Regions from separate parts of the Homo sapiens genome. Here region 1 is linked to region 2. The links come from fine-mapping of genetic effects on gene expression. A gene starts in region 2. The other region holds a variant in brackets. All regions are shown on one strand. Distances are between the middles of the regions.

Region 1 (11,772 bases), 150 kb after region 2:
CGCCTTGGCCTCCCAAAATGCTGGGATTACAGGCGTGGGCCATCGCGTGGGCCCTGACTTTCCTTTTCTTAGAGCACCTAGTTTAGAAAACTTGCAATTGTAAATTCTTTCTCTGCCCCCTTTGAGATGTAAATCTTCTCCCAGCTCCTTGCCAGTTTTACAGCCCAGGAATGTCTTTCTCAAGGACCTGTGAACCATCCCTTTGAAATGTAATCACTGAGAAAGATGGCCCTCTCTGTGGATGGGTAGGAGCCTGGCTTTGATAAACACAGGCTAGCAAACACAGATGCCCAATCACATTGACCCACCTCTCTCCACCCTCTAGTACTTTTCCACTGGCTGATTCCAGAGTTTGAAAACTCTCCCACCGTTTGTTTTTGTGGAATTGAGTTCAATCTCTTTCCCCTATTGCAACAATCTTGAATAAAGTCTTCCTTGACTGTTTAACTCTGGCTGGTGCAATTTTTCTTTTATGATATGTTTACATTTTTTGTTTTAAAAATTATTTGGATCAGTAACTAATAAAAGCAAATATTTTTTCTGAAAAGAGATCACATTTTTGACACATCATCTAACTTAGTAAATGTTTCTTGAGCAGTTGTATTGTAATTGCATTATGCCAGGCATTGAAGACACAAAAATAAGCAATAAATTCAGAAAAAGGACAACTACTTCCCAAAACATCTCCTTACATCATTGAATTTGATTTGTTTACTTATAACTGAGACAAAGACTAGCTTTGAGACTTCAGACAAATCCAGACCCCTCACTGTACCTCTGTCCTGTTCTCAAAAAACAATATTGGACTACGTGTTTTCTAAATTTCCTGTTTGACTCCTGGATTCTGAGAAAGTTTTGAAATAACTCAACAACTGGTTTTTGGCAATAAAATTGCTAAAATAATTTAAAATTTTTTACTTTAAACAATTTTAAAAATGTTAATAGCTTATTTAAAATTTTGGTAGAATTAGATAAGAATAATACGGAATTAAACTAAGCATAGCTGAATACTCTGAGAGGTATTTACAAATCAATACTGGAGCCTTATCTGAAATCCTACCAATTTATTTTTCATTGTAGGATGTAGTTTCAAGGTCCAAAAATGTATCTCTGGAGAATATTACATTTTGGAGCCTGCTAAAAGTTTTTCTATAAATATTCCACCAAATGAAAGAAAACAAGCCATCAGCAATCACTCTGACAGATTTATCCAGCGGCTCAGAATGCTGGACTCTAGTCCCAACCCTTGACAAGTTATGAAGGCAGCAGAGTCATCATTCAAATGGATTTAAGTGCCCATTGTGTGTAAAGACCTTCCTTACCTCTCAAGGCCAACAAGCTAAGATGGATAACTGGAGTCTTTTAGCCTTAAAGGGTGTTTGGCATAGCAAAATACAAACATAGAAAAGATAGCTTCACTCCAACTCCTGGCTGAGCTTATCCCAACAGTGTTAGTGAGGCTTTGGAGAACTAGAAGTAATCTGCAGGCTTAAATTCGTTTTTCAGTCTCTTCCCACTTACTATTCGTGTGACCATGGGAAGGCTTACTTAACCCCTTTGAGTCTCATGGAGTTGTTGAAAGAACGAAATGACATAGATTATATGACATGCTTAGCACAGTGCCTGGGATATAAAATGTGTTCCAAAAGTGTTAGCTGAAATTATTAATATTAAGTAAGAGCCAATATGAGAGAGAGCAATAATATTAAAGGTGGGAGTTTAGTTCACTGTGTATTTATTGTAGGGAATCAGAATATGCCACCCCAAAATATGCCATTGGCATAAGGATTATTTTGAGCTGAAGACACTTGAAAAACAGCAGATGCAGGAAGAGCTTTCTGACCTTCCCCTTTCTATCTAAAAGTAGGACATAAAATTTCCCATGAGAAAGGTGCCCTTCCTGTACCAGGAAGAGCAGAATAACTCTTAGTAATCAGATTCTTATCAGCCCAGAGATGAAATCTACATAACAAACCTTAGGAAAACAACTTGTCTTTCCCCTTATATTTACCTTCCCACCCCTGAAAGCCTAAGCCCCTTTTCCTTGTCACTTCTCTACAACTTTATCATTCTTTGTTAACATGCTCTATAAGCTCCAAGTTCTAATCGCCCCTTTGAGAGACCAATCACCAGATTTCTCTTGAATGTATTCATGCTGCATGTGTGAATAAACTGTGTTTTTCTCTTATTCATCTGTCTTTTTTCAGTTTAATTTCCAGTATCCCAGCCATAGAAGCTAAGTGAGGAAAGGAAGAGTTTTTTTAATCTCCCCTACATATGTGTGTATGTGATAACTCTGTCTATTACTAGATGAGGGTTAGTGGGCATGGGAGTGTAATTAAGTACTCTATTTTTACTTTTTTTTTTCCTTTTCTTTCTGTGGCCCTTTGTATTAACTTTTTACTAATGAAATAGTAACCTTTACTCTCCTTCTTTCCACTAGGCACTTCCTTGCATTGCTGGTTTATCTAATTATGTTTGCTTAGAAGTTCTGGAGACTGAATCTTCAGACAATCCAGGTGCCTATGGAATTCTCCTTGACTAGGAGATTACTTTAAGGCTGCAGCTAATTTACAACCCTGTCAAACCCAAGATGGTGCCAGCCCATTCACCAGATGAGACAATAACTCAGGATAAGTCATTGGAACAAGTCACATAGTCCTGCACTGCATGCCCTCCATACCAAATTTCTCTTTCTTAAACCTTAGCATTTTGCCTGGGAATTTCCAAGTAGTTTTGTTAAGGCGTGTTAAAGCAAACTAAATAGGGCCTGAGAAGGACTCCATACTTGTATATTTGAGTCCTTGTGGATGAACTGTCACCTAGCTTAATAAGCAGACAAGACTGAAAACCTAATTTAGGAGTATGTGCCTGTAACAATAGCTGAGTCTTGGCCCATCCCAACAGCCATACTTCAATCACTCGTAGACTGCTAAGTGTTCAAATTGTGTTCAAATAAGGCAAACATCAACCTGTAACCAATCCAGCTGTTCTATACATCACTTCCGATTTTTATACATCACTTCCCTTTCTTTGTCTCTAAATTTGTTCCTACCATGAGGCATCCCTGGAGTCTCTCTAAACCTGCTGTGATTCTGGGGGCTGCCTGACTCATGAATTGTTCATTGCTCAATTAAACTCCTTTAAATTTAATTCAGCTGAAGTTTTTCTTTTAACAGACAGGAGACTGAACCATTTCCACACTGCTGGCTTCAGAAAATAAAGTCGCTTTCCTTCCACAGCACCCCATCCTTGTTATGGTTTTGCAGGTGGCAAACAGCCAAACCTGTGTTCAGTTACAAGAGGAACTGTGAAATCTGGGAGCTCCTCTGGCAGAAGAGGGTTGAGCATCCAATGCTGTGTTGTGTTGAGATCTAGTCTTGCTCAAGTGAGGTTTCTCATCTGAACCACAGAATACAGAAAGTGATCCCAGTGACTATCTCCTGATTTTTCCAAGGATGTTGCATTCTAGTATCATTCTAGAGACCTAGGAAGGAAGTTAATTTGTGACATACAATGAATGCCTTAGGACACTGGGGCTTAATGCAGGTCTTGGACTTGATGTAATCACATGGAAAGTGGTTCAATGGCCTTCAGGAGTCATTTTCAAACATAGCATTGTAAAATTCTGTGCATCTGTTAAAAAAGATGAGGTGAGCTTGTACATAACATGGAAGAATATCCATGATTCATTGATAAATGCAAAAGGTAAAGTCTTGAATAACAAGCATAGAATACCCCATTTTATTTTTTAAAAATCCTACATGCAAATACTTAAATAAAAAACAAATCCTAGAAGATTCTATATCAAATTGGGGGAAAGATTGCCCCAATCTCTAAAATAAAATAAAATTACTTAAAATAAAATTTAAGTAAAAGTAGTAGGTGAGCAAAGATAAACTAGCACATTTTATTTGTATTGTTCAAATTTATTCAATGAGCATCTGCTTCTTTTTAAAATTAGGAATAGTTTAATTCCCAGTTCAGATATGGTTTAAAAAAATTAATAATGTGAAAAGTGAAGGTAACTTTAACAATGCAAGTTGTGAGTGCAGGGGAGTAGGGTAGTAAGAGACAGAAGTGGTGGAAATATGTTTATAAGTGATTGCAGATGTGTGGGGCAGCGCTGGGTAATTGGAGCATTTACAGGCTGAAATATTAGGGGCTGGCAAGGCTCCAAGGAGAGGCTGGGACTGGACGGGTCATCTGGGAGGATGAGCCGAGTGCCTTCGAAGGTTGCCCAGCATTGCACACACAGAGCACCCATCTGCCTCTGTAGCTCTGTCCTCTGGAGGAGGTGCCACAACCAAGGTCTCCTGCCTCCCAAATCAGAGCTTATCTCACATTGGTGACTGTATCCAAGTTCCCCAAATACCAGTCATTCTCATAGTATCTTTATACTATCCTCTAATTTACTTATTTCTTTTGGCTCCATAAATTTGGCTCTGTTTTGACTTATAATATTCATGAAATAATGAGTTTCAGTGTTGATTATATTTTCTACTTCCCAGTACGGTCATGCGTCACTTAGTAATGGGGATACATTCTCAGAAATGCATCGTTGGGCGATTTCATTCTCATGCAATTTCCTCATCATGTGAACATCATAGAGTGTACTTAAGTGTACTTATGCAAACCTAGAAGGTAGAACCTAGTACACACCTAGCCTATTGCTCCATCCACGGTCATGTAGGCAGTCCGTCATTGACCAAAACATCATATAGGACACATGACTGTTTTGAATAATTTTTAAGAAGCTTTAGTCTGTATCTCATCAAAAAGCATCAAAGCATATTTTGGGAAATAACAAATTACATTATATATTAGATAATTATTGAGATCATGCTATAAAGTAGAGGAAGGCAAGTGTATTAAGTATTTAGAAAGAAAGTATCCATATTTAAAATGCTGCTGATAATGCTGGAGAAATGATTATTAATTGGCAGGCTGAGTACAGGATACTTTTCATGTGTATGAATGAAAGTTCAATCAGGGAAGAGGAATGACAATGAGGATGATGGAATAGGACTTTCTTACAGGGATTAAACCTTACACAAGTGTGGGAGGAGCTGGAAGTAAAGGTCTGACATGAGAGCTGGAGGTTCTGGGAAAATGCCCTATGCAGCCCTCCTGAAGCACTGGGACAGATGGGCAAGTCAGCACTTGCAGGGATTCCGGGAAGCCAGCAGATCCAGATGCTGGAGAGGAAGGACAGTGGAGAGCTGATGGGGAAGTCCAGGCAAGATGTTGCTCCTACACCTGGTGGTGGACCACAGTCGATGCTGGTCAGCAGGGCCAGCTGGCAGGAGGAGGGGCTGAATGCAGAGCAGGGAAGCATGATGACCACTGGCAGTAACTGGCATCTCAGCATCTGTTTTTACTGAGCATGCTTTGGCCAACTTTCTTTTGGCCAATTCTAACTCAGAACCATACTGGGAAGGGAATTCTGTGAAACATAATTCTAACCAGCCGAAGTTAACACAGTATAAAGCCACTGTAGCATAAGATAAAGTTAAGAAACAGGAATAAGATGGGAACTACTCTCCTCAAGCAAGAATAATGGCCAGAGGTGTAACCGTCACTTCATGGTTAAAACAATTAACGCAGATATGAACTCTCCCGCTAAGGTGAATCAGGCTTATTTGGACCTTTCTGTTGGGCCTACATGGGTTTTCTAAAGGCCACAAATCCAGGCATCAATAGGCCTGGCCACAATACAAGCAGCTGAGAGCCAATACTATCCACCACTTCTCTGCATGCCTCTGCAAGTTTGTAACTGTGCAGATGCACGAGTAACAGTTAAGGTCACCTAGTCATTCATTCAGCGTGGATTCATGGAGCATCGATGTGCCAAGCACTGTTCCAGAACCTGCAGCTATGGTAGTGAACGCAGTAGACCCAGTTTCTGCTCCATGTCTGTGAAGGGGATGGGAGATAGGCAATTGTCGATATTTGTCCATACTCTATGTGGGATGGAGGTAAGAGCCATAAATACAAAGAAAGGCTCATGTTGACTTTTTATTATTTGTGCAAATTTATGGGGTACATGTGAAATTTTGTTACATGTATATAATGTATAGTGATCAAATTAGGGTGTCCATCTCCTGGGTGCAATACATTTTTGTTTAACTATAGTCACCCTATTCTGCTATCAAACATTGAATTTATTCCTCCTACGTAACTGTATGTTGGCAGGGCACAATTTTAGAGAGGGATCGGTGATGCTGTTTTAGACACGGCAAGCAAGGAAGGCCTTTTTGAGGAGGAAGTTGATGAAGAATGGAGCTCCGTGGCTCTCTGGGAGGAAGGTCACAGGAACAGATGTGCAAAGGCTCAGACAGTGGAAAATACTTCACATGCTCGAGGAACCCCAGACAAGAGTGACTGGAGCAGCAAGGGTCAGGAGGAGACGGAGAGGATATGAGGTCAGAGACCATGGTTAAGACTTAAAATTTCATCCCAGTGGGAGTGAAAGTCCCCTAAGGGTTTCAGCAGCCACGTGGCCTCCTCTGAATGCAAGGGAAATGGAGCCACTCCTGCCCAGTCAGAGTTAACTGGAGTTTTATGTATGGCTTACACTTGTACCGCTAAGTAGAGGTACAGAGGGAAAATTTGGGCGATAATTTAACTTTTGACTGGATGAAGGCACGGGGGTGTCAGAACGGCTCATTTTTTTCCCTAGATAATTTAGTTTCACAACCATGCCTTGTAACTGGCTGAGGGCCTTATCTGTCAGAAACTTAGCCATCCGGCTCTACAAATGAAATCTCATGAGCTCTCACTCCTCATCTGGAGCCTGGACCCCTCAATGGGGCCCCAGGCAGCAGGGCAACAGCATCATGTCAGCATCATGTCAGCGTCCTGCCACCCCTCTCCATGCAGCAGAAGCAGACGGGAGAAAGGGCGGCGACTCCTGTAGAGAGGGGGCTTAACCCGTGAGCGTGAGAGGCAGTGGTGGAAGTCATTTGCTAAGTCAGAAGAGGCCCAAACATAGGGAAAAGGTCGTGTGAGTATAATTTCAACTTCCACTTCCATTTCACGGCCACATGCCACTTCTCGTAGTCATAACAATGTTAAAACTGGAACAAAATAATCGTTTAGGGAACTTCAAGTCCTATAAATGATCAAACTGTGCTGAGCAGTGCTAGGATTCCACAGAGGTGACTCAGGGACACTCTGGAGAATGTCACTGGATGTGAGGAGAAGCCC[G/A]TGGGTGGACAGAGGGTCTCCTCCCTTCCAAGCCCTACCCTCTGCTTCCATCTATGCTGGATTGGCTATTTATCTAAGATTTTGCTTCAAGGAAGAGTTTTGGCGCCAAAAAGTAAACAACAACAACAATAACAACCAAAAAAAACAGATTCTGAGATTAATTAGGACTAACTATGTGCCAGGCACTCCACTGAATTTTTTTTTACAAACATTATCTCATTAATCCTCCAATAGCCCTATGAAGTAGATATTATAGTCCTATTAATGAGAAAATTAAGACTTAGTGGAGTTAAGTAAATTTTTCATGTCTCACAGTACTGCAAAGCCAAGATTTGAACCCAGGCCAACTCATCTGACACCTCAACCTCAACTCCTAACTTTTATGCCATCCTGAAAAAAGAAAACCTATCAACCAAGGTTATTCTCATTACCATTCAAGGAAATGTCTTAAAATGTTTAGAATAGCCATTGTGTTCATCTGCTTGGGCTGCCAGAACAAAGTATCACAGACTGCATGTCTTAAACAACAGAAATTTATTTTCTCACAGTTGTAGAGGCTAAGAAGTCCAAGATCAAGGTGCTGGCAGATTTCGTGTCTGGTGAGGACTCCCCTCCTGGATTGCAGATGGCACCTTCTCACAGTGTCCTTTCATGACCTTCCTTGGTGCACACGTGTGCAGAGAGAGAATGCTGATATATTTTCCTCTTCTTAAAAGAGCACCAGGCCAGGCGTGGTGGCTCACGCCTGTAATCCCAGCACTTTGGGAGGCCAATGCGGGAGGATCAAGAGGTCAGGAGATGGAGACCATCCTGGCTAACATGGTGAAACCCTGTCTCTACAAAAAATATAAAAAATTAGCCGGGTGTGGTGGCACGTGCCTGTAGTCCCAGCTACTCGGGAGTCTGAGGCAGGAGAATCACTTGAGCCTGGGAGGCAGAGGTTGCAGTGAGCTGAGATCGCACCATTGCACTCCAGCCTGGGCAACAGAGCGAGACTCCATCTCAAAAAAAAAATTTAAAAAAAGGTACCAGACCTATCAGATTAGGGACCCATATGTGTGACCTCAGTTAATTTTATTACCTTCTCATAGTTGCTATCTCCAAGTATTGTCACATTGAGGATTAAGATTTCAACATAAGAATTTTGAGGATACACAAATATTCAGTCCTTAACAGCCATAAAGGCTAATATAATACTGACACTTATAGAGCTTTCACTATTTAATATATCCTTATGTAGTGCTTACTCTAAGCAGAGCCCTATTCTAAGTGTGAAAATATTGACTCATTTAGTACTTCCAATAGCCCCAGGAGGTAGTTGCTATCAATATTTTCAGATAAGGAAAAGACTGAGGCACAGAAAAAATGATTAATTTGTTCCCTAGTGGTGAGCAGTGATGTAAACCTGTCAAATACTTCACACACACACACACACAAAAAGTTTAATCATCCCTCAGCCTCCCTGGGGGATTGGTTCCACAACTCTGCAGATACCAAAATCCCTGGATGCTCAAGTCCCTGATACAAAATGGCATAGTATTTGCATATAACCTGTGCACATCCTTCTGTATACTTTAAATCATCTCTAGATTACTTATAATACTTAACACAGGCCAGGTGCAATGGCTCACACCTGTAATCCTAACACATTGGGAGGCTGAGGTGGGAAGATGGCCTGAGCCCCAGAGTTTGAGATGGCAGTAAGCTATGATTGTGCTACTGCACTCCAGCCTGGGCAACATAGTGAGACCCCAACTCTAAAAAAAATTTAAATACCTAATATAATGTAAATGTTGTGTAAATAGTTGTTACTGTATATTGTTTCCTATTTGTATTATTTTTTGTTGTTATATTGTTATTTTTGTTGTTGTTGTTTCAAATATTTTCAAGTCAGCATTGGTTGGATCCAAGGATGTGGAGCCCACAGATTTGGAGGGCTGACTATAACTGAGGGATCAGGCTCCTTTCCCACCCATGGCTCCACCTTCTTCAATGGATGCTTCCCATGTCACCATGGAAGGGAAAATAACGTGAGAGGTTCTATGCGTCAGCTCTGGCTTCCTCTCACATTCCATTGGCTAGAACTCAGTCATGTGACCACACCTACCCGTGAGAGAGGCTGGGAAATGCAATCCAGTTGTGCGTCCATGACAAAAAGGAAAACGTTAGGTGAAAAACTCGCAATATCTTCTACTATAAAGACACAATAAGTAATATAAAATATTCTCAATTTATTTGGAGAAAATAACCCAATTTCTGTATTTGATTTTTTTAAGTTGCATATCCAGGAGGGCTAAATGGCAATAGATAATTTTTTTTTTTAAGCAAATGACATTTTCAGAATAGAGTAGCCACATGTCCCAAGACAGAATCCACATCATTTACTGCCTGTGCCAGTGCCATGGCTAGGCAATCTGTGAAAGTCTCCCCTTTGTTTTTCTTCTTTTTCCTGTGTGCACCCCTATTCTTTCCCTCTGAACCTTATTTCCTCCTCCCCACCAGTTTCATTTTCACTTTTGTGTGGTTCCATTCTCACCTGTTTTGGGCATGAATGGACAGGGGCACCACAGACATCACCAGCCCCCCTCACTTTGGTGGCCCTTGAGCTGAAGGAGGAAAAAAAGCTGTTTAGTGGAGCTGAGAGGGGGCTGGGCACAGATAGTGCCTGGTTTGTCCCAGCCCCGACACTTTCCAGCTCTAGTTGACCCAGGACAACTTTGCTGCTCATTTTTCCCACTGGTTAAGGTCCAGGTGTATACAGGAATACGTTGGAGATATTGTGGGTCCTGTTCAAACCACTGCAATAAAGTGAATGTCACAAAAATGCACGTCACAAAAATTTTTTTGTTTTCCCAGTATATCTAAAAGTTATGTTTACACTATACCACAGTTTATTGTGTGCAAAATCATTATGTCTAAGAAAACAATTCACATACCTTAATTTAAAAATGCTTGATTGCTAAAAAATGCTAACAATCATCTGAGCCTTTGACACATTGTAAGCTTTGCCAGTGGAGGGTCTTGCCACAGTGTTGATGGTGGTAATTGTTGCTGAAGTTTGGGTGGCTGTGAGGCAATTTCTTAAAGTAAGACAACAATGGAAATTGAGGCATCGATGGACTCTCTCTTCCTTTTATGAAAGATTTCTTTGTAACGTGAGATGCCATTTGATAGCGTTTTACCAATAGTAGAATTTCTTCCAAAATTGGAGTAAATCCTCTCAAGCCCTGCCACTTCTTCATAAACTAAGTTGACATAGTATTCTAAATCCTTCATTGTCATTTCAACAATGTTCACAGCATCTTCACCAGAAGTAGATTCCATCTCAAGAAACAACTTTCTTTGCTCCCCATAAGAGGCAATTCCTTATTCATTCAAGTTTGATCATGAGATTGCAGCAATTCAGTCCCATCTTCAGGTTCCACTTCTGATTCTAGTTCTCTTGCTGTTTCTACCATATCTGCAGTGACTTCCTCCACTGAAGTCTTGAGACCCTCAAAGGTACCTATGAGGGTTGGAATCAACTTCTTTCAAACTCCTGCTAATGTCAGTATTTTGACTTCTCATAAACCACGAATGTTCTTAATTGCACCTAGAATGAGAAATACTTTCTATGAGGTTCAATTTGCTTTGCCCAAATCCATCACAGAAATTACTATTTATGGCAGCTGTAAGCCTTATAAAATGTGTTTCTTAAATGATAAGAGTTGAAAGTCGAAATTACTCCTTGATCCATGGGCTGAAGAATGAATGTTGTATTCACAGGCATGAAAACAACATTTATTTCCTTGCACATCTCTATCAGAACTGTTGTGTGACTAGCTGCATTGTCAATGAGTGGTAATATTTTGAAAGACATCTGTTTTTCTGAGTAGTAGGTCTTAACAGTGGGCTTAAAATATTCAGTAAATCATGCTATAAACAGATATGCTGTCATCCAGATCCTGTTGTTTCTTTATATAGCACAGGTGGAGTAGATTTAGCATAATTCTTAAGGGCCCTAGGATTTTCAGAATGCTCAATGAACATTGGTTTCAACTTCAAGTCACCAGCTGCATTAGACCCTAACGAGAGTCAGCCTGTCCTTCAGTGCTTTGAAGCCAGGCATTCGCTTCTCCTCCTATGAAACTCCTGGATGCCATCTTCTTCCAACAGAAGGCTGTTTAATCTACATAGAAAATCTGTGGTTTAGCCGGGCACGGTGGCTCACGCCTGTAATCCCAGCACTTTGGGAGGCCGAGGCAGGAGGATCACGAGGTCAGGAGATCAAGACCATCCTGGCTAACATGGTGAAACCCCTTCTCTACTAAAAATACAAAAAATTAGCTGTGCGTGGTGGCGGGTGCTTGTAGTCCCAGCTACTCAGGAGGCTGAGGCAGGAGAACGGCGTGAACCCGGGAGGTGGAGCTCGCAGTGAGCCGAGATCGCGCCACTGCACTCCAGCCTGTGAGACAGCGAGACTCCATCTCAAAAAAAAAAAAAAGAAAATCTGTGGTTTAGTGTAACCACTTTCATCAATGATCTTAGCTGTCTCTCCTGGATAACTTGATAACTTGCTGCAGC
Region 2 (11,772 bases):
GGACTCAAAAACCTTGACCACTTTCTTTCCAGTTTCTCCAAAACAAAACTAACCACTGTCTTAAGCCTGGATTGATGACAGGGAATTTGAAGAAAGACAGTATTTAGATAATCCACATTTATATGTGTTCTTAGACAATTCATACTAAGACTAGTCTACATTAAAAAATAGTTTACAAGGCAGATTGCTTTTCACCATTCATGCTATTTGTTTACAGAACGGATTACCATAGCTGAATTCCATTTTCTATCCTTTCTCTAATATAGTGCCACTGTGTCCCCAACCAACCCCACAATATAAACTTGTAGCTATGAACAAGAATATCATTTTTTCTATGTCAACAATTTCTATTGATAACGTCATATTTTATGCATTCATTTCCTAGATTACTGTTTGGAGCCTAAAGTATTATATTTATACCATGTGTGAAATGCAGAAGAAAAATAAAATTTGGCTTTTTAGGTTCAAAGAAACTATTTTGTAACAGATATGGACCTCTATTTTCACATTTTCCTTTAAATGCACTTAAACTTAGAGAATTTCAAATTCAATAACATGACATACTTTTCATTTTTTGACTCTAAATTGCCAGGCTCATATATAATATACGTAAAGATTGGCAATTCTGAGAACTAAAGTTCTATATCTCCATTTAAAGTGGTATAAATTAAAAATGGAAAGGAAAGCATATCAGCTGGGAATGAGTCCAACAAGTTTAGCTCCCATAAAGTCTAAATCACATATCCAAGGCTGGATGATAGATCATTAGAGTTTGTCGGTTGTACAAGATCAGTAGTAAGCCATCTGGCTTATTCTGTTTATATCAATGAGTCTTATTCCAAGTTTTTGATATTTCCACAGCTCATAAGTAATAAGGCTACTGGCAGCAAGGCTGCATCATAACCTAATTTCTGGGGGAGATTTTATTTGATTTTTTGTTTGTTTTCCATAGCAAAACAAAGTTTGAATGCCATTTCAAAAAAAAAAAATTCACTGAATTGGAAAGACCATGGTCTCCAAGCTTAAGTGTAGCATTTGCTATATATTTCTATTTACCCCAATGTATGTTTGTGCTCCCCCTCCACCCAATCTCAGGGTGGGAAATCAAGATAACAGTTATCCTTGCATGATTTTCCTCCCCATCACTTCCTTTACTCTTTTCAAATGTGTTACAGCAGAACATTCTCTAAGTAGAACATACTCTGCCTTTCCCCAAATTGACTAGGAAGAAGGACTGTTCACCACTGTCTCCTATGGGGAAGAGAAAGCATCATCAGTGGCTCTGTTCTCGTCCTTCCCCACACTATGCTTTCCGGTTGCCCCACGTCAGCCTACTCCTCACGTCACACCTCTCCTAACCTTGGAAGGTCTAAAGCCAGCTGGGGTGGGTGCCGTTGGCTGGTCCTTCCCTCAAAACAGTGGGGCTTAAGTAGCAAACAAGATGCATTTTTAAAAGTTGAAATTAAAAACTGAAACCATGTACATTTTTAAATCACATTTTTAAATACTTTAAAGTATTAAAGTACCTTTAAATACTTTATAAATCTACCCACCCCGCCTCACATTCCTCCTTTCTCTCAAATACATGGGAAGCCTCCAGAAAGCAATACTTTGTTGTTGCTCAACAACAATGGTTCTCAAATTCTCTGCGTTGGAATCACCTAGAGGACTTGCTGACGCACAGATTGCTGGGCCCTGTGCCCAGACTTCAGCAGCTTTGGGATAAGACCTTAGCATGTACATTTGTGACAAATTCCCAGGTGAGGCTGATGCGGCAGGTCCAAGGACCCACATTGGGAACCACTAGCCTAGACATAGCACAACTGCTAAAGAAAGAGAAAACGCCCGGAAGATGCGAGTCCGACCAACATTACTCCCAGTTGTTGTCCAGCTCAGGGAGGGTCTAGTTCCCTAAATAAATGGAGGCCACATAGTGGGGATTAATACGGAAAGGTAGAGTTAAAGCAAACCAGCTGCTTGAATTATTTCCCTTCTCTGCTGGCTCCTCAAGATACTCAGAGTACAAGTATCAAGAAAAGGAAAGTGGAATTATGGATGTAAATGTGATGGATCGTTTTTAGCCAGTCCCGATCTTTAGATTCCCATTTGCATCTTGGCTGTCCTTCCATTTTCTCCCTTAAACTGCCCATAGTGCTATGCAATGGGTATTGCAATCAGACAGACATGGGTTGAAGTCCTGCCTCGCTTGCTATGTGTCCTTCATAACTCTTTGCCCTCATTTTTTCCATACAGAAAATGGAAATAACAATAGAACCTACCGACAGTGTTGCTGTGCAGATTGAATGTCACCCTGTGTATGCACTGACTGGCACATGCGTGATAAATACTAGCTTTTACTATGAATGCTACTGTCTCTTGGCTTTCCTATGAGAATATTCAGTACGTTAAATATCACACTACCTGTTTGATACAACAGGTTGGGTCATTAATTCAACCAATATTTATTGAGTGGCCATTGTGTGTCAGACATAGAATATTGTATAAGTATACTGAAATAATACTCTGTAAAGAAAAGTGTTTGATATAAACATATTTTGATTTGGAAAATTTTTACTTTACATGAACTTACATTTACGAAAAATACTTGCTGCCAAAATTGGCTGAGGAAATTGAGAGGATGTGTTTACTAACCACAAGTTTTGTTTTGACAGACACTAAAATAAAAGAATGGAGGAAAACAGGGGAAAGTAATTCTGCAGACACAGTGGCCTTATATTATTAAAGGTATATTTTAGACCATCCAAAATACCACAAGCCCACTTTTCCCAAAAATCATTATATTTACGTAACAGGGAACAAATTTGGCCAAGGGTATTCTATTTTCAGTTCACAATGATGTCATTTTGAACCTATCACATCAGTCAGAAATATAATGATCAGCTAGTAACAGGAGCAGCATTCAATCTTTCAGTTCTTCCTAGTTTCCTGAGCAGAAGCTGAGAATTCACCCTTCTACCAACTGACCACCCAAATTTATTAGGCCTCATTGTTTGGAAATATAAAGTGAAAATGTTAATGCAATATATGTTGAAATGTCTTGATTTTATCCTCAGTAGTACCTTTGCTCCTTCCTCCTCCCAGAATTTCCCTTCCTCAAGAAAGGTGTCAGAACCCCAAAACTTTAGGAGCTGGGTGGAGGTTTCATTGACAGTCAGGTGTGGCTTCTAATTCTGCCATGAAACACCAGGCCTATGAAGTCTGAGTACCCTACACGAGGCCAGGTGCTTTGAGGACAATGAGCACAGATGACTTCCATCCTGGTCCATTACACTTTTCCCTACACCCCTGGCCTCCATCTATTACTTAAAAAGAACTTCCACAAGAATTCACTGTCAGATTTAATGGAGAAAGACCCTGAGCCTCAACGCTTGCCTCCCAATGCCTGTTAACAGGGATTGCTGCTGGTGATGAAAATACTGTTAACTTTTGTGGCACTAGCAGGTGTCAGAGAGTGGAGGAAGCTATGAGACTCCACAATACAGAACTTATGAAAAGAAGAGGTTTGATTCCCTAATAAAGGATATATTGCCCCAAATCCTCTATGAAACCAAATGCTATGGAAATCTACTTGGGCCAACTTTTCCTGTAATCTGTAGTTCCCCAAAGTTTATAAAGAAATAAAAGTGTAACTTTTAAAATATGAGGTCTTGTACAAGGTAAAGAATATTATTTTATCCACATCTACATTTCCAAATGCCCTAACACATTTGTAACTTGGCTGATGTGGTTTTGTTTTTGTTTTGCTTTGTTTTGTTTGTTTGTTTTGGGTTTTTTTTTTTTCCTTTTCTTTTCTCTTTTCTCCAAACGGTCTACTATCTAGACCTGTGGCTTCTGCCACGAAGTGACGTTTGGGGTAACTGTGGCAGCCTCCAGCTGGCCCGGGTCATTTGGCCCATTTTCTTTCCAGCACTTCGGTGGCTCTGCTTCCCCGCACTCGCTCTCATCGTGCAGATGCTCAGGCTTATCACTTCGGATGCTTGCAAGAAGCTGGAGCTCTCCCAGCCTTCACCCCCGCACGACCTCTTCTGGCCACAGACTTGGGAGGGATCTGCATCCTCCCTTGGCTCGAACGCGAGTGCCAGCATCGTCCTTGCGACCTGGGCTTGCGCTCGCCTGTCCCTGGCACCCCTGGCTCCCGCAGCCGAGACGAGGGAGCTGCGGGGTCACGCCTTCTCGCTGGAGCGGCTCTTTCCCTCCCGTCAAACCCCTTCCTTACTTCTGCTAAAGACAGGCGGCCTCTCTCCTAATAAACCACACACACACACACACACACACACACACACACACACACACACACACACACACAAGTTTTGACTTGAGCTTGAGACGCACACAGCGCCGAGGATCCTCGGGTTACTGGGGGCGACACTGCTGGCCAGGCTGACCAGCGCCCTCGGGCATCCCCAAACCCCTGGATGCAACCCGTTCCCCGCGCCAGGCTAGCTGCGGGCGGCGGGGTGGGCAGCGGCAGCCAAGGGACAAGCCAGCCCGGGGACAGCGCGGAGCCACTAGGGCCGGCGGGCAGGCGGGGGATCTGCGGGACAGAATTCTCAGAGCGGACGGTGGCAAAGGGCTAAACCCACCCACACTCCCCGGGGCGCGGGACGGGACTGAACTGCGGTCACTAACAATGCAACGAAGAGGACCTTCCCTTCCCTTCGCCACTCCCCGCGCCGCCAGGCCTGAAGATACACACACTCCGGCACACCCCACACACCCATCCACTCCGCCCCAGTCCGGATCCGGGTGGCGGAGGTGGGGCGGGGGGAAGGTGAGCGGTGCCTCGCCCCGGGGTACCTGCCGGCAGCGCAACCCAGCGGCGCCCCCGCCTCGGTGAGGACAGTCGGACGCGCGGGAGGAAGAAGGCGCTCCCGACCGCGGCACAGATGCTCACGGGCTTAGCACCTGGAGAGACCCGGGGCGGCGGCGGCGCGCGGTGGCAGCGCGAGAAGTCCCCGCCGCGACCCTCTCCCCGCCGCACAACTTTGCGCTGTCGGCGCCGCCCTAGCGCCTGCCCAGCTTCCTTACCCAAGTACTGCCGCAGGTCGAGCAGGAAGCGAGGGGGTCCCCCGCTGAGCTGATAGAGGAGGGAGCCCAGGCAGAAGACCAGCAGGGTGGCCATGCAGAAGCCGTAGTCCCGGAGGGAGAAGCGCAGGAAAGGCAGCAGGGGCACCCGACGCTTCCAGCTGCCCAGGCCCGGAGGGGCGCCCCCCATAGGGGCCCCATGGGGCCAGGGATCCGCGCCGCCGCCGGGATGCTGCTGCTTCTTCTTCATCGCCTGCTCCGCTGCCTCCCACAGCCTGCCCGTGCCAGGAAAAGGTCACCCATCCGCCGCGAGGAGGAGAGCCCGGCTGGCCGGCTGCACATGGGGAGGGCCGCGCGGAGGGCAGCCGGGTGGGGGCGGGGAGGGGCCGAAGTTGCCGGGCTCAGGAGACTTTCTTCGGCATGGTCCCCGCCGCCGCGGCCCGAGCGGCCGAGGTGTCCGGCCCCGGTTCGGGGCGCTGCCCGTGACGGGGCGCCGCGCCCGTCCGGCGCCCGCTAGCGTCCCCACGCCCCGCGCCCCGCCGCGCCTCGGGCTCGCTTGCGGCCGCCGGGGCTCGCCTCCAGCGCCAGCGTGGACCCCCCGGCTTTGTGTCTGTAGGTCTCGGCGTGTTTTGTCCCGGTTCAGGCTTCTCTAAAAAACGGCAGGGAGGAACAGGAGGCGGACACCATCCCCTCGCTCCACCTCCTTGACAGGGGTTTTCCTCCTTCTCCTCCCCTTTCTCCCTCCGGCGCTCCGCAGCACTCTCCTCCCTCTCCCCTCCCTCTCCGCTCGGGTCTCGGGATTTCGCTCGGGTGTCACGTTACTGCTTCTGCTGGGGGCGGAGGGGGGGAGGCGGCGATTATTCGCAACAAGGAAGAAAGTTTCTGGGTGTTTTCTTTTTTTTTCCTTCCCCCGTTCTTTACAATCTGGATGCGGTTCCTGCGCCACCAGCGACCTCTTGGGGGCCCCGCTGACTTCCCTCTTGTAAACAGTCACCGGCAGGAAGAAGCACGACTGACTTTACTATTTACATTTTTTTCAGTTCAGAAAGTTGATTCTCCTTATATACCCCGTGCGAGCTGCTTACCCAAGGCTGATAAAAGGTACTAGAATACAGGCTCAAGACTTTGCTGAAATGGGAAAAGAGCAAGCGGTGCGAGTTATGGTCAAACACGCCCCAGAGGGCCAGGCGCAGCGCCTGAACTCCCGGGTAGGGTAGCCGAAGAGGACGCTCTGTTCTTGCTTTTCCTGGTCCTACAACTGCTCCACCTCGCAGTGCCCAGAGAGGCAAGTGGGGGGTGCATAGCGGACTCTAGGAGGTCATTGCCCTGCAGACATGAAGGGGAAAGAGCCCAGTCCGCCTATACGCTGATTTCATTGCTGCCTCTCTTCCCTCCACGGGAAAGCCTCTGGACCTGAAAGAACCTCCTGGGGCAGAAAAGGCTCAATCCTAGACATAGATCCTCTGATGGGGTGGTTGATCCACGGAAGGGCTGCTCTGATCAGCCACACTTTAAGTAAGAATACTATATCACTATTTATAGAAGCTGTAGCACCTGAGGGCTGTGTGACTCACCCGAGGTCCCAAAGCTAGTAGTAGGAGTTGGGTTGGGAGTTGCACTCAAATCTATTTGACCCTCAGACCCACTATACTAACCACTGCACAGCAGTACTTCCCAGCCAGAGCCCTTTTCCTTCACGTCCCATAGGAGGATGAGATTTAATTCATTTAGTTCAGGCCACATTGAGAAATGGAAACCTCAGTTTCTGGTGCCTATCATTTCTGGCTCCCTACTCATTTGTATATTCCAGTAATGAACAATTGGATTTAAGAAGGAACCAGGAGCCAAGAACCTCTATGATTCTAAGACTAGGCTCCTGAAAACCTTCATCAAGTTAGGCATCTGAAGAATATTCTGTGGAAAATTACAAAATATTATCCTAGACAAAGAACTTACTCGTTAAGAATATGTCTTAACCTCAGCTACTCAGGAGGCTGAGGCAGGAGAATCGTGTGAACCCGGGAGGCGGAGGTTGCAGTGAGTCGAGATCGCGCCATTGCACTCCAGCCTGGGCGACAGTGCGAGACACCGTCTCAAAAAAAAAAAAAAAGAAAGAAAAGAAAAGAAAGAAAGAAAGAATGAATATGTCTTAACCATGTTCATATATGAATGTCTCTGGTTCATGATTTGAAACATATATCATGAGCTAGAGAGATGTGTAGATGAGGTGACAGGTGCTGCACACACACAGAGACACACGTACACACACACAACTCTACTGTCCAATTTTACATTGTCCTAGCCCACTTTCTAAGGGATGAGAAGGCTGTTTTGGGGCCCCAAGAGAAAAGAAAATATTTTGTTCTGTGACAGAAAACCCTGAATAGAGTGTTAATCATTTGCTTTACATTTATCTCATGAATCAGGGTTTTATTTGGATTAATATGCACATTTTAGAAATGTGACTTCCCCTAAGAGAATTGAGTAGATCAGTCATTGCCCATTAATGTGAATTACTTTAATCAGTACAATGAGTAGCCCAGAACAGACTCCCAATTAATAACGTTTGAGCTTAAGAAGAGGGACTAGGAGACAGAAGGAGCAAAGCAGTGTTCATAATGTTTCAGGGACCGCCTTCCACAAACTGGACCTGTATCTGAGGCCTGGCCCTGTAATCTGAACACTCGCTGGATATAAAATAGTGTGCAAGACCCTCTGTGTTCACAAGTCCCACCCCCAGGAAGTTCAGAGACTTTTCTCACAGCATGCTGTGGGAAATACCCCAATTTTTTCTCCTAAGGAAAGGAATCTGAGGAACAGGGAGATGGAGCAGGAAGAAAGGAAACAAACATTTGAGAAAATAAGTAAATATGAGAATAAATGTTGTTTTAAAAAACGATGAAAAAGTTGCAAGGAAAGTACAAGGGGGCAAAGTCCAGCTTAGAAGAAACAAGCTATGACATGAACTATTTCAGAGAGAATAAACAGGTCAATCTTTAAAAGATTGTGTTAATAGACTCGCCGCCTAAAAAAACTCACAGAAGAAAAAGAAGAGATATCAAGATACAAAGAAGTTTCACATGGAAAAAAATGCTTTATATTTTCACCCAACAAAAACTTAGTTGTTTGGGTAAAACTTTGTTCTTTGAAGTCCCATAAATATCCCTTCAGAAAAAAAAATTAAATTTAAAGTACTTAGACTAATTAATGGTATCTTTATTCAAAGCAGATAACAAATCTAATTAGAGGAAGTTGTGAACGAATTTTATTATTAGTCTTATAATGAAATATACTTTATTCAGCACCTTGACCTCCATTCAATATCTTTAGCTTCTCAATTCCTTCTCTCTCCAGTGACTCATTTGACCTTGTCCTCACTGATGACTAATTGCATCTCCGAAATCTCCTTTTCCCCCTTCACAACCTTCTATCCTTCTGTTTGGCTTCTTTGGAGCCCACCCTGTTTTTCGGTCTTTTCAAGAACTGTCAAGTCTGTGTTCATCCATCTCATGTGTTTACTTCTTTCTTTATCCAGTTTTGATTCCTGATCCATCATTCTGATCTCCTTCTTGCAAACACCCCTTCATTCCCCCTGTTTCTCTCATCTTATATCCTACAGTGCTTGTCTGGTGAAACCCAGGCTCAGTTAAACCCAACCATGCAACTGGACTGGATTGCAGAAAAACACACAGCGCTGGTAAGTGGCTTTTCTTTAAATTAGAGAGCACAGATTTCAGACAGATGCACACCCATGGCTGCCCAGCAATCCCACTCACTAAAAGGACTATTCCATAGTGTCTTTCTCTTCAAACCTCCCATCTCCACCCTCTGCTTTCTTCCCTTCAGTCTCAGGGGATGACCTGGATCAGCCTTTGTTGAGAAAATAGAAGCAGTAGGATGAGAGCTCACTCATTTCCTACCAATCTGTGCCCCGTGCTCTTGGCCTCCCTCCCTGTTTCATCGTGTTCCTGCTTCTATCAAGGCCATGCTGCCACGTGTGCCCTAGACTGCCGTTCCCACCAACCCCAGTCCCACACCCAAGCCTGCCCCCTCCATAGCCTTCTGCATCTCTGTAAATCATTACACTCTCAAGTCACTTGGGCCCCAAACCAGAAGTCTTAGTTTTTCTATTAATAGTTCATTCATTCTTGTATCTAAACCATCTGCAAATCCTATAGGATTCAAAAAAAAGTCCAGTATCTGACATCCTTTGCCACCCCCCCGGGCCAAACCACTGTCTTCTCTCACCTGGATTGTTGCAAAGGCTACTTATATTCATCATGTTTCAGTTTAGCTACATAGAGCTGGAAAAAAAAAACCGCAAATTTAAAAACCAGTGGCTTAAACAGAAAAGAACTTTATTTTTTTTTCTCTCTCTCTTTTTTTTTCCTTTTTGAAACAGAGTCTCCCTCTTTTGCCCAGGCTGGAGTTCAGCCACGCAATCTCAGCTCGCTGCAACCTCCTTCTCCGGGGTTCAAGTGATTCTCCTGCCTCAGCCTCCCAAGTAGCTGGGATTACAAGCGTGTACTACCACACCTGGCTAATTTTTGTATTTTTAGTAGAGACGGGGTTTCATCAAGTTGGCCAGGCTGGTCTCGAACTCCTGACCTCAAATGATCCACCCACCTCGGCCTCCCAAAGTGCTAGGATTACAGGCATGAGCTACCATGCCTGGCCCATTTCTCTCTCATGTGAAACGAGTCCAGAAATAGGCCGTCCAGATTTGGTGTGGTATTTCTATGCTATCCTCAGGGACCCACCTGAGCTTTCTGTTCCACCATCCTCAGCATGTGGCTTCCATTTTAAAGGCCGTCTTATGCAATGTAATCAGCATTTCAAAAAGGTATGAAATCTTCATACCTCTTTGATATGTTCATTGCAGCATTGTGCACAATAGCCAAGATATGGAATCAACCTAAGTGTCCATCAATAGATGAATGGATAATACTATTCAGCCTCAAGAAGGAAATCTTGTCATTTGCAATAACACAGGTTAATCTGGAGGATATTATGTTAAAGGAAATAAGCCAGACACAGAAAGACAAATACTACATGATCTCACTTATATGTGAAATCTAAAAAAGGCCATCTCATTGAAGCAGAGAGAGGAATTACAGTTAACAGGGTTTAAGGAGGGAAGGGTAGGGATTGAGGAGATGTTGGTCAAAGGATACAAAATTTCAGCTAGGCAGCAGGAATAAATTCAAGAGTTCTGTAACGTAGTGACTATAGTTAATAACATATCGTATCGTATACTTGAAAAGTGTTAAGAGAATAGATTTTAAGTGTTCTTACCACAAATAAATGATAAGAATGCAGAAGGGGAGAAAAACAAAACAAAACAAAAAGATCTCCTTATGGTTGCAGATGGCTGCTAGAGTTCCAGCTATTATGTCTATGTTCCAGGTTGGCAGCAGAAGGAAGCAAAAGAGCAAAGAACTCCCAACTGAGTAGGCTCTTTTTAAGCAGTGCTCCAAAGTGTGCTATAAATCTACCTTCTTATAGGTCATTGGCCAGAAATTAATCACATGACTCTGTCTAATTGTAAGGGACAGGGGACAGAGAGTATCTAGGAAATCTAGACTTTAGCTGGGTGCGTTGCTGCCACAAATAAGAATCAGGGTTCTATTGCTAAAGAAAGAAAGGGCAGATGGCTACTATGTGGCAATCAGCAATTTCTGTTGTTCCTCCTGACTGGTCTGCCTGCTCCCAGCCTTTCACCCCATATTCCATTCTCCTCAGAGCAGCCAAAATAGCCATTGCTGCTCAAAACTTGCCAGTGGCTTCCAATGCACTCAGAGTAAAAGGCAGCATCCTAGAGTAGCCTCTGAGGTCTTACTCAATCTGGCTCCATTGTTTCTCTGACCTCATCTCTTATCACTTTTCCTGCTCACCCTTACCTATCCTCATTCATCAGACAAGACAAAAACTTGCTCCTCTATTAGGACCTTTGCTTTCACACTTCCCTCTGCCTAGAAAGTTCTTTTCCACACCTCTGCATGGCTTGACTTTTGACTTCCTCCCAGTTTTGCTCAATGTTGCCTTATCAGAGGAGTTTTCTGGGACTACTCTCTATGTAATGCACGTGTGCATCCACATTCCTTATTCTCTTGACCTCTTTAGCTTTCTCCATGGAATGTACCATAATCTGAAATGTTAGTATTTTGTATGTGTTGTATATTTCTCCCCCCTAGAAAACAAGCATCTTGAAGGCTATGATTTTGTCCCATTTGTTTATTGTTTTATCTCCAATACCTAGAATAGTGCTCACAGGTAGTGATCACTCAAGAAATATTTGTTGAATAAAAAGATGAGTTTTTTATAGGAAGAGTCTGATGTTCGGTGAGTCAAATCTCATTGATTCCGTGGTCGGCCAAGTGCGGATGAGACGTGGAGGTCCTAGAAAGTAGGCCTCCGTGCTGCGAGAACATTCAGATAATCATCAAAAGAATTGTTTGCAGTTGAAGATGTATTCACTGAAAGAAAGGGTGAATGAATGAATGAGGCCCTCACCACCTCCGTGACCCCTAATTAGCAATGCAGCTACTCCCTGTGATCATGAACGCCTCATGGAATCATAAAAGAGATGAGTCTATTGGCTTTGCCTGGTGTTGCCATTCCCCTTGGCAGAGAGGCTGCTGCTCTTTAGGACTGCTGTTCATTTCAGGGATTGGGGCCATCAGTCTCTTGGAGAACCAAGCTGTCTGAGCTTTGACCTTGGAAAAG

What was found. PIP is the estimated chance that this variant, and not a neighbour inherited with it, causes the effect.
Region 1: its variant is fine-mapped to the expression of UST in visceral fat (GTEx, PIP above 0.99). The same link has a PIP of 0.9 or more in esophagus muscle, fibroblasts, subcutaneous fat and transverse colon.

The regions. Positions count from the first base shown.
Region 1 is chr6:148,588,596-148,600,367 of GRCh38, reverse strand. No RefSeq gene overlaps it. Among named protein-coding and RNA genes, the nearest start is that of UST, 150 kb to the left of the region's middle. RefSeq lists enhancers at 81-375, 1-568. The variant G/A (reference allele first, on the strand shown) is at 7,210.
Region 2 is chr6:148,740,955-148,752,726 of GRCh38, reverse strand. It overlaps UST (uronyl 2-sulfotransferase), which reads right to left and starts at 5,697. Exons shown (of 8, transcript NM_005715.3): 1 at 5,050-5,697. The coding sequence starts at 5,296. LOC124901425 (a long non-coding RNA gene) reads left to right here and starts at 7,128. Exons shown (of 2, transcript XR_007059806.1): 1 at 7,128-8,743. RefSeq lists enhancers at 3,559-4,058, 4,059-4,560, 5,869-5,948, 6,009-6,068 and silencers at 4,739-4,908, 5,209-5,298.